Linked DNA regions of Homo sapiens: region 2 is linked to region 1. Evidence: fine-mapped expression QTL. A gene starts in region 1. The other region holds a variant in brackets. All regions are shown on one strand. Distances are from middle to middle.

What was found. PIP is the estimated chance that this variant, and not a neighbour inherited with it, causes the effect.
Region 2: its variant is the best candidate, but not a certain one, in a credible set for the expression of DGCR8 in whole blood (TOPMed, PIP 0.60).

What each region holds. Positions count from the first base shown.
Region 1 is chr22:20,078,231-20,082,608 of GRCh38, reverse strand. DGCR8 (DGCR8 microprocessor complex subunit) reads right to left here and starts at 2,368. Exons shown (of 14, transcript NM_022720.7): 1 at 2,226-2,368. RefSeq lists an enhancer at 1,550-1,609 and a silencer at 1,870-2,489.
Region 2 is chr22:20,098,474-20,102,851 of GRCh38, reverse strand. The region is part of intron 9 of DGCR8 (DGCR8 microprocessor complex subunit); the gene reads right to left. Among named protein-coding and RNA genes, the nearest start is that of MIR6816, 14 kb to the left of the region's middle. The variant G/A (reference allele first, on the strand shown) is at 2,051.

The DNA.
Region 1 (4,378 bases):
GACCACAAGGTCAGGAGATCGACACCACCCTGGCTAACACATTGAAACCCCGTCTCTATTAAAAATACAAAAAATTAGCCGAGTGTGGTGGTGGGCGCCTATAGTCCCAGCTACTCGGGAGGCTGAGGCAGGAGAATGGCTTGAACCCAGGAGGCGAAGCTTACAGTGAGCGGGAGATCGCACCACTGCACTCCAGCCTGAGCAACAAAGCGAGACTCTGTCTCAAAAAAATAAAAAGAATCACTCTGTGGCCAGGCACAGTGGCTCACGCCTGTAATCCCAGCGCTCTGGAAGGCTGAGGCAGGCAGATCATTTGAGGCCAGGAGTTCGAGACCAGCCTGGCCAACATGGTGAAACCCCGTCTCTACTAAAAATACAAAAATCAGCCGGGCGTGGTGGTGGTGGACGCCTGCAGTCCCAGCTACTTGGGAGGCTGAGGCAGGAGAATCGCTTGAACCCGGGAGGCAGAAGTTGCAGTGAGCTGAGATCACGCCACTGCACTCCAGTCTGGGCGACAGAGCGAGATTCTGTCTCAAAAAAACAAAAAAAAAAAAAAAGAAAGAAAGAAGAATCACTCTGTGTCCAGAAAAACTATAGATGGTGGATGGGGAGTGAGGACCTAAGGTGACAGTAAAGAGAATTAGAGGCTCACCAGGTAGGCTGGGCCAGGATGTTAACTTGAAGGTGGTGAGAAATGGTCTGTGCTTAGAAATAGGTGAGCTGACGGGGCCTCCTTAGGACTGCATGAAGGTGTAAGAAAGAGAGGAATCAAAGGGACTTTAGATAGGCCAAGGAATGTTTTGGCATGGGTGAAGATTTGAGTTTGGTTTGGATATGGCTACTTGGCGCCAAAGTAACACATGGAGATATGGAAGAGGTGGCCAGAAACACCAGGCTGGAAATCAGAAGAGAGGCCAGGGCTGGAGCTGTGAAGATGTCAAGGAAAGCTGGCATTAAAGTCAGGAGGCTGGGTGACATCACAAAGGAGAGGGCTACAACAAGAGAGTCTAAGACTGGGCAAGCCAGCCAGAAGCACATTTCCTACCCCAAGGTCACGGTGAGACTACAAAACAACCCCTGGGAAGTGCTCCACACAGCGCCTGGCCGCAAAGGGCTCAAAGGGGAGCTCTCTGCCCGTAGGCCTCCCCACTGCTCCAGCTGACCAAACACCGCATGCAAACCCTGCCTTGCCAACAGGACTATCGGACAGGAACGGGCTCACGGCAAGCTCCCCTGGACCCTTGGCACGGGGAGAAAACCCGTACACTTGGACAGCACCCTTCCTCCTAGCCCACTTGCTGTGTTGGCTAACAGAGGCACTGGCTGTGACGGGCCAGCACCAGTGCCAGCGCCATGGAGGCTGCCTTTTGGTCAAGTCTCTCCCGCTGCAGCCTCCCGCCCAACCCAGCGGCAGTATGACCTCATCCGTTCCTTTTGTCATCCTCCAACAGGCCTCATATCCCGCACTTAGAGGCAACACTGGGTACCCCGGGCTGGCCATTCACTCCCTTTTGTGAGTGAAGGCCTGCAGCAGGGTTTGGGCCACTCCCACAGCTGGGAGTCTAGTCTGGCCAGGAAACAGTGGATCCTCGCCTGGTGGTTGGCCTCGAACAGTCGACAGCCAAAGACAGGACTGCCGTGCAGGAACAAGGTACATGCAAGCATGCAAAAAGGCAAATCAGACTCCTGCCACAAGAAACCCAAGTCCATCGGTTGACACCAGACAGGCATCACTGTCAACAGGTTGCCACCTTCCATTTATTTCCGCCATGCTCATTGTTACAATAAAACCGTATCCCAATTATCTACGTGACACTCAACCCGTGAGCATTCTGTGGACAAAAAGACTTAGGCGACTTCTTGGATTTCCCAAACTGTGTTAAAGCCGGCAGGGTCCCAGGCGAGCACTGGCCCTGTCCACACCTTTCCCGCCTGAAGGCGATGCTAGGCTTCGGGCCCTCCGGGAGAGGAGCCTCTTTACCCGGGCGGACAGCGACGAGAGTCGGCAACGCCTGGGCCCGGGGCCCGCCCCCCAGCCCCGGAGGCGTCCCCACCCCGCGCTCTCCACCGCCCGCGGCCATGTTGCCTCACAAAGGCCGGGCTCCGCGCCCCCGCCCCGCCCGCGGCCTCGGTCCCGGAGGGAGGCGGGAGGGAAGGGCGCGCCCTCGCGCAGGCCGCGGCGCCCGCCCAACCGCCCGCGGGCGCCCCTCGCGCCCCGCACCTACCTGAGGCGCCCGCGGGCTGCCCAAGCCGCCCGCAGCCAAACCACAGCCGGGAAAGCCTCACCGACCGACCGCCGCAGCCATCTGGAAAGCCTGTCCAGGCTCTCCGGTCGCCGGCACCCGCCTGCCGCGCCGGGCGAGCGGAGGGCGGGCCTTCGCGGCGTGCGGCCAATCCCCGCGCGCGGCCGCCCCGCATTGGGGGAGCCGCAGAGCGCGCTGCGGAGGCCGCCAATCGGCGGCGCGTAGCGCGTGTGTCCGCCGCGCGCGGCCCAATAGCGCGGCCGCGCGGGAGGGACCAGGCGCCCAGGCCGCGGTCGCGCTAACAGTCGCTGCCCAGGCGGGGCTCGCTGGACTGAGGGCGGCGGCCGCGAGGAGCGCCGGGAACGGGAAGCACCGGGAATGCCGGGAGCAGGGGAGCGCGGGAAGCTCGGGGAGCGCGGGGAATGCCGGGAACAGGGAGCGCGGAGTACGCCGGGAGCGGACACGCAGACGGGCCACCTTCGGTGGACACTGCAGAAGAGACCGTGCACACACAGGCGTTACACAACCCTGTTAAAAGCATCACTGTATCAGACATCATCATTTATAAAGAACGCGTGTGCTCAACTGTCTGGCGCTGTCCCCTTTGCTAATACAGGATTTCCAAAACAGGGAGGGTTCGGCCGGGCACGGTGGTTCGGCCGGGCACGGTGGCTTGCGCCTGTAATCCCAGAGTTTTGGGAGGTCGAGTCAGGAGGATTACTTGAGCCCAGGAGTTCGAGACCAGCCTGGCTAACATAGTGAGAGCCCAGTATCTACAAATTTTCTTTCTTTTTTTTTTTTTTTTTGAGGCGGTGTCTCGCTTTGTCTCCCAGGCTGGGGTGCAGTGGCGCGATCTCAGCTCACTGCAACCTTTGCCTCCCGGATTCAAGCGATTCTCCTGGCTCACCCACCCGAGTAACTGGGATTACAGGCGCCCACCACCACGCCCGGCTAATTTTTATATTTTTGGTAGAGACGGGGTTTCACCATGTTGGCCAGGCTGGTATCAAACTCCTGGCCTCAATTGATCTGCCCGCCTCGGCCTCCCAAAGTGCTGGGATTACAGGCATGAGCCACCGCGCCGGGCCCAAAATTATTTTTAATTAGCCGCGTGGTGGCGGGCGCCTGTGGTCCGAGCTACTCGGGAGGCTGAGGTGGAAGGATCACCTGAGTCCAGGAGTTCCAGGCTGCAGTGATCCGAGATAGCACCACTTTCACTCTAGCCTGGGCGGCAGAGTGAGACTCCGTCTCAAAAAAAAAAAAAAAAAAAAGGAAAACGAGGGTCTGAGTAAGTGAGGGTACAGCTCTTCCTTAGACTAGCTTTCCTGTCAATAAATGTGGAAGGAATAGTGGAAATAGAAAAATTTTCCACTGGGTAGCCACCCCAATAATAGCTGCTGTAGACGAAAATCTTGAGTGATAAAAATAGTGGGCCGGGCCCTGTGGCTCACGCCTGTAACCCCAGTACTTTGGGAGGCCGAAGCAGGCGGATCACCTGAGCTCAAGAGTTCCACACCAGCTTGGGCAACGTGGCGAAACCTTATCTCTACTGAAAATACAAAAAGTAGCCAGGCGTGGTAGCAGGCACCTGTAATCCCAGCTACTCGGGAGGCTGAGGCAGGAGAATCGCTTGAACCCGGGAGGTGGAGGTTGCAATGATCTGAGATCGGGCCACTGCACTCCAACCTGGGTGACAGAACGAGACCGTCTCCAGAAAAAATAGTGAGCAAGGCCAGGCACAGTGGCTCATGCGTGTAATCCCAGCACTTTGGGAGGCCGAGGCGGGCGGATCACTTGAGGTTAGGAGTTCGAGACCAGCCTGACCAACATGGTGAAACCCTGTCTCTACTATAAATACAAAAAAAAATAGCAGGGCTTGGTGGCAGGTGCCTGTTGTCCCAGCTACGGAGGCTGAAGCTGGAGAATTGCTTGAACCTGGGAGGCAGGAGTTGCAGTGAGCCAAGATCCAGCCACTGCACTCCAGCATGGGCAACAGAACGAGACTCGGTCCCCGGCCCCCAACCCCCTACAAAAAAATTAGGCCAGGCACAGTGGCTTACGCCTGTAATCCCAGCACTTTGGGAGGCCGAGGCGGGTGGGTCACGAGGTCAAGAGATCAAGACCATCCTGGCCAA
Region 2 (4,378 bases), 20 kb before region 1:
CCAGAATTTTTTATAGAAACTGACATATTGTTTCTAAAGTCTACATGGAACAGCAAAGGAGCTAGAATAGCCAAAACAATTTTTTGAGAAAGAATAACGAAGTTGGAGGACTCCCAGTATCAAGACTTCAAGTCATCAGGAAAGTGTGGCATCAGGAAAAGGACACACAGCTCGAAAGACAGTAGACAGCCCCAAAACAGACACACTTCCACGGTCACCTAGTGACTGAGAAAGGTGTGAGGGCAATGCTAACATAAGCGTGCACCTGCCACACAGCCCAGCAACCCCATCCCAAGGGTTTACCTGAAGGAAACGAATCCGCCCATCACACACAGACCTGGACGACCTTACAGCAGCCTTACTGCCCATCACCAAAACCCAGAAACCTGTCAGTGTCCCTCAAGGAAGAATGGAGAGACGCACTGAGGGGCACAGCCACCTGGTGGCCAGCACTCAGGAGTACAAATGACCACACGACGGATGCGTCACACCACACCAAGCCAGAGGCCAGGTTCAAAGGCTACGTACCAGGTGACTCCACTAAGAGGACATTCAGGATCTGGCAAAACTACAGGGGCAGTTCAGTGCCCACCAGAGGATACAGGTGGGAGAGTTTGACCAACAAAGAAGAATGTTGGAATGTACAGAAATGTTCTGCATCTTGATTGCAGTGTTGGTTACATGACTGTGTATTTGTCAAAACTCACAGTACTGTACCAAAAAGTGAATTTAACTCTATGTAAATTTTAAAATAAGATGAAAAAAAAAAAAGAAAACACTTGGTCACTAATACCTAAATTTAATAGCCATGAACCACCAACCCACAGCTAGCAACAAAATACCAAGAGATCACCACAAGCTTTGTGAAAAGGAAATGATGCCAGTTGTTCCTTTTTTCCCTTTTTAATCAAGTAGCATACACGCGTGGCCACCACACCTCACAGGCATCAACCCGCCCCTCCTGACATGTCAACCCCACCTCCGGAGTCCACACAAGGAGGGGATACTACCCCACGCCCCAGGCTGTCCAGGGGACAGTCCAAGGACAGGTGTTGGCACCTCTGCACAGGCAGCTGGGAGGAGCAGGGGGCGGGGACACAACCTGAGAGCCTCGCTAGGGAGGACCAGCAAATAGAAACTTCCCAGGAACAGGAGATGGCCACCCCTGTCTAAACACCCCCACCACCCTACAACGGAGGGAAAAGCTACTTTCCCCTCTGACAGATTTTTAAATGGGGACATCACAGATGACATATATACATTTTTTTTTTTTTGAGACATATTCTCGCTCCGTCGCCCAGGCTGGAGTGCAGTGGCGCAATCTCAGCTCGCTGCAAGCTCCGCCTCCTGGGTTCACGCCATTCTCCTGCCTCAGCCTCCCGAGTAGCTGGGACTGCAGGCGCCCACCACCATGCCCGGCTAATTTTTTGTATGTTTTTAGTAGAGACGGGGTTTCACCGTGTTAGCCAGGATGGTCTCGATGTCCTTACCTCGTAATCTGCCCGCCTCGGCCTCCCAAAGTGCTGGGATTACAGGCGTGAGCCACCGCGCCCAGCCCACAGATGACATATATACAAATAAGAGGGTCAAAGAGCTTCTCAGGAGGGGCACATACAAAAGGCACCCTAAACCAAGGCATGGCATCATAAAAACACACGGTCTTCTCTCAGGTTCCCAGAACAGAGTTCTTAAAACCCTGAGGATTTCCTGAGTGCTAGGTTTGTCTTTTGTGATTCAAAACGACCCCACCACAGAGCTTATGCTGAGGAGGTGGCCAGGGTGGGCTCCCCGGAGAAATCAAATGTGTCAGTAGAGGGGAGGAACTTTCAGCCCTTCATGAAAAATAAGTTTCATAAGTAAAATTTTTCCTGAGTTCCTGAGTCCTAGCAAATTTCCAAGCACGAGGAGGGGTCCTGTGCCGGGTGGCAGGGGCCCCCATTTGCGGCTGGCACAGGAAGTGGGGGCAGTCCCACGAAACTGAGCTCCTTACCTGGGGAGATATGACGCTAGCTCCAGACAGGCTGCAGTGTGGGAGGATCGGAGTAGGGGT[G/A]TGGAAAAAGCCCCAGGCAGGGGAGTCTACAGCGGAAGCCACCACATGCCCCACCCCCATGTCCTTCTCCACCTGGGGAAACCTCTTCTTTCTCAGACTACTTTGCAATGTGGTTTCTGCAAAGCCTCTCCACTTCACAGAAGAACCCCAGAGTGGAGGCTGAGAACCTGACTCCCCGCTGGGCCCTCTCCTGGCACCAGAAACCACAGTGGTTCATGGACATTTCCACCACCCCATAGCAAAGAACAGGCAGGGCTTTTACTCAGACAGGAAGGCAGCGTGAGACCTACACAACTCAGGCACCATCGTCTGCAGCAACCCATACTAAGAGTTTTGGTGGGCCAGGGTCTACGCAAGCACTTCCCCAGAGGGCCTTGGAAGCCTCCCTGGGAGCCATATTTCCCACGGTTGGGTCACTCAGAAATAAAATCAAATGTGGCCAGGTGCAGTGGCTCACGCCTATAATCCCAGCACTTTGGGAGGCCAAGACGGACGGATCACGAGGTCAAGAGATAGAGACCATCCTGGCCAACACGGTGAAACCCCATCTCTACTAAAAATACAAAAATTAGCCGGGCGTGGTGGCGTGCACCTGTAGTCCCAACTACTCAGGAGGCTGAGGCAGAAGAATCGCTTGAACCCAGGAGGCGGAGGTTGCAGTAAGCAGAGATCGAACCACTGCACTCCAGCCTGGCAACAGAGCGAGACTCCATCTCAAAAAAAAAGGGACAAATGTGACTCTTCCTGGAACAGCTAGTACTTGGAGACTGTGCTTGATCCACATGTGGTCTGCAATCTGTCTGTAGCCTGTCCACGATGAAGCAGTTACATAAAGCACAGAAAACATGTAGAAACTTGAGAGCAAGAGACTAGGTGTGGTGGCTCACGCCTGTAATCCCATCATCCTGGGAGGCTGAGGCAGGAGGACTGCTTGAAGCCAGGAGTTCAAGAAACTTAAGAGCAAGTTAGTACTACCATAGACACTTAACCATATTTTATAACAGCACCAGTCCACAAAGATGAGAAAACTTTACAAAACCCATCCTAAAGTAGTTCTGGAATGGCCGAATAAGGACCTCCAAAATCTGCTCTCCTCCATTAAAGCAACAAGAACACTAGCAAAAATGGTCAGAATTAATTCTTTCAGAACCCTGGAAACTAAAGAAAGGCTTTCAACAATCTGAGGAGTGTTGATTCAAGAAAGACAACGAGTCTTGCTAAGAACAAGGAGTTGCTGGCATCTTAACTCGCCCCATTCCCAGCCCTTCTCCCCAGCTCAGTGGTAGCCACTCAATGGAGAACGGGTCCTCAAGGCCCCAGGCCCAGAGAACTGTCACTGTTGGGTTTACCTGGCCACCCTCTGGAAAAGCCTCATGGCAGGATTTGTCTTTATTTGATCTCACTCAGTGAAAACAGCCCAGTTCCTGAGGGCTTTTGTCAAAAGGAACCAGTGGCAACTGTTTCACCCTGCAGCTGCCAGAGGCTGGGGCACTAGTTGGGCAAACAAGAGGCTGGCCAAGAACCCAAGAAGGAAAAGCTGGAGATGTCCATGGGGCTCTGAAAGGCTCTAGCGTATGTCTGGAGATGACTGCGCACAGGCCCAGGAAAACCTCCCAGCTGACTGACCTGGAGACTCTGTGCAGGTGGCACACAAAGGCTAAGACAGTTGGCAGCCACCGGAGCACACCAGGTGAGCCCCACAGACCCACAGCTCTCATCACAGGCCGGGAGACTTACTGGCTCAGGGAATTTACGAAAATCCCTGTCCAAGCATCAGGAGACCACTCAGCTAAAGGGCCCGTGTATTCAGTGGCCACAAATCATAAAGAATACACACTTCACAGAATCAATCTAGGAAAGTCACTATTATGAGGTAAACTGTCACCCCCAAATTTACATGTTGAAGTCCCTCAGAATGCAACAGTATTTGGAGACAAGGTCTTTACAGAGGTCATCACATTACAATGAGGTCATTAGGGTAGGGCCTAATCCAGTGAGACAGGTGTCTCTATCAAATGGGCAATGTGGAGACCAGCATGCACACAGAGAGAAAGGCATGGACATGGAGATCGCTATCCTCCACCCACGGAGAAAGGCCTTCTCTTAGCCTTCTGACACCTTCATTTTGGACTTCTGGCTTCCAGAACTTTGAGACTATACATCTCTGTCATTTAAGCCTCCCAGTCTGTGACACTTTGTTACAGTATCCCTAGCAAACTGATACAGTCACAAATAGAGAGCAAGGACATATGACAAAAACTATAAACTTAAGGGAGGTGAGGTAATGTGATTTCCAGAGTTGCCATATATTTTAAATGTCCAATTCTT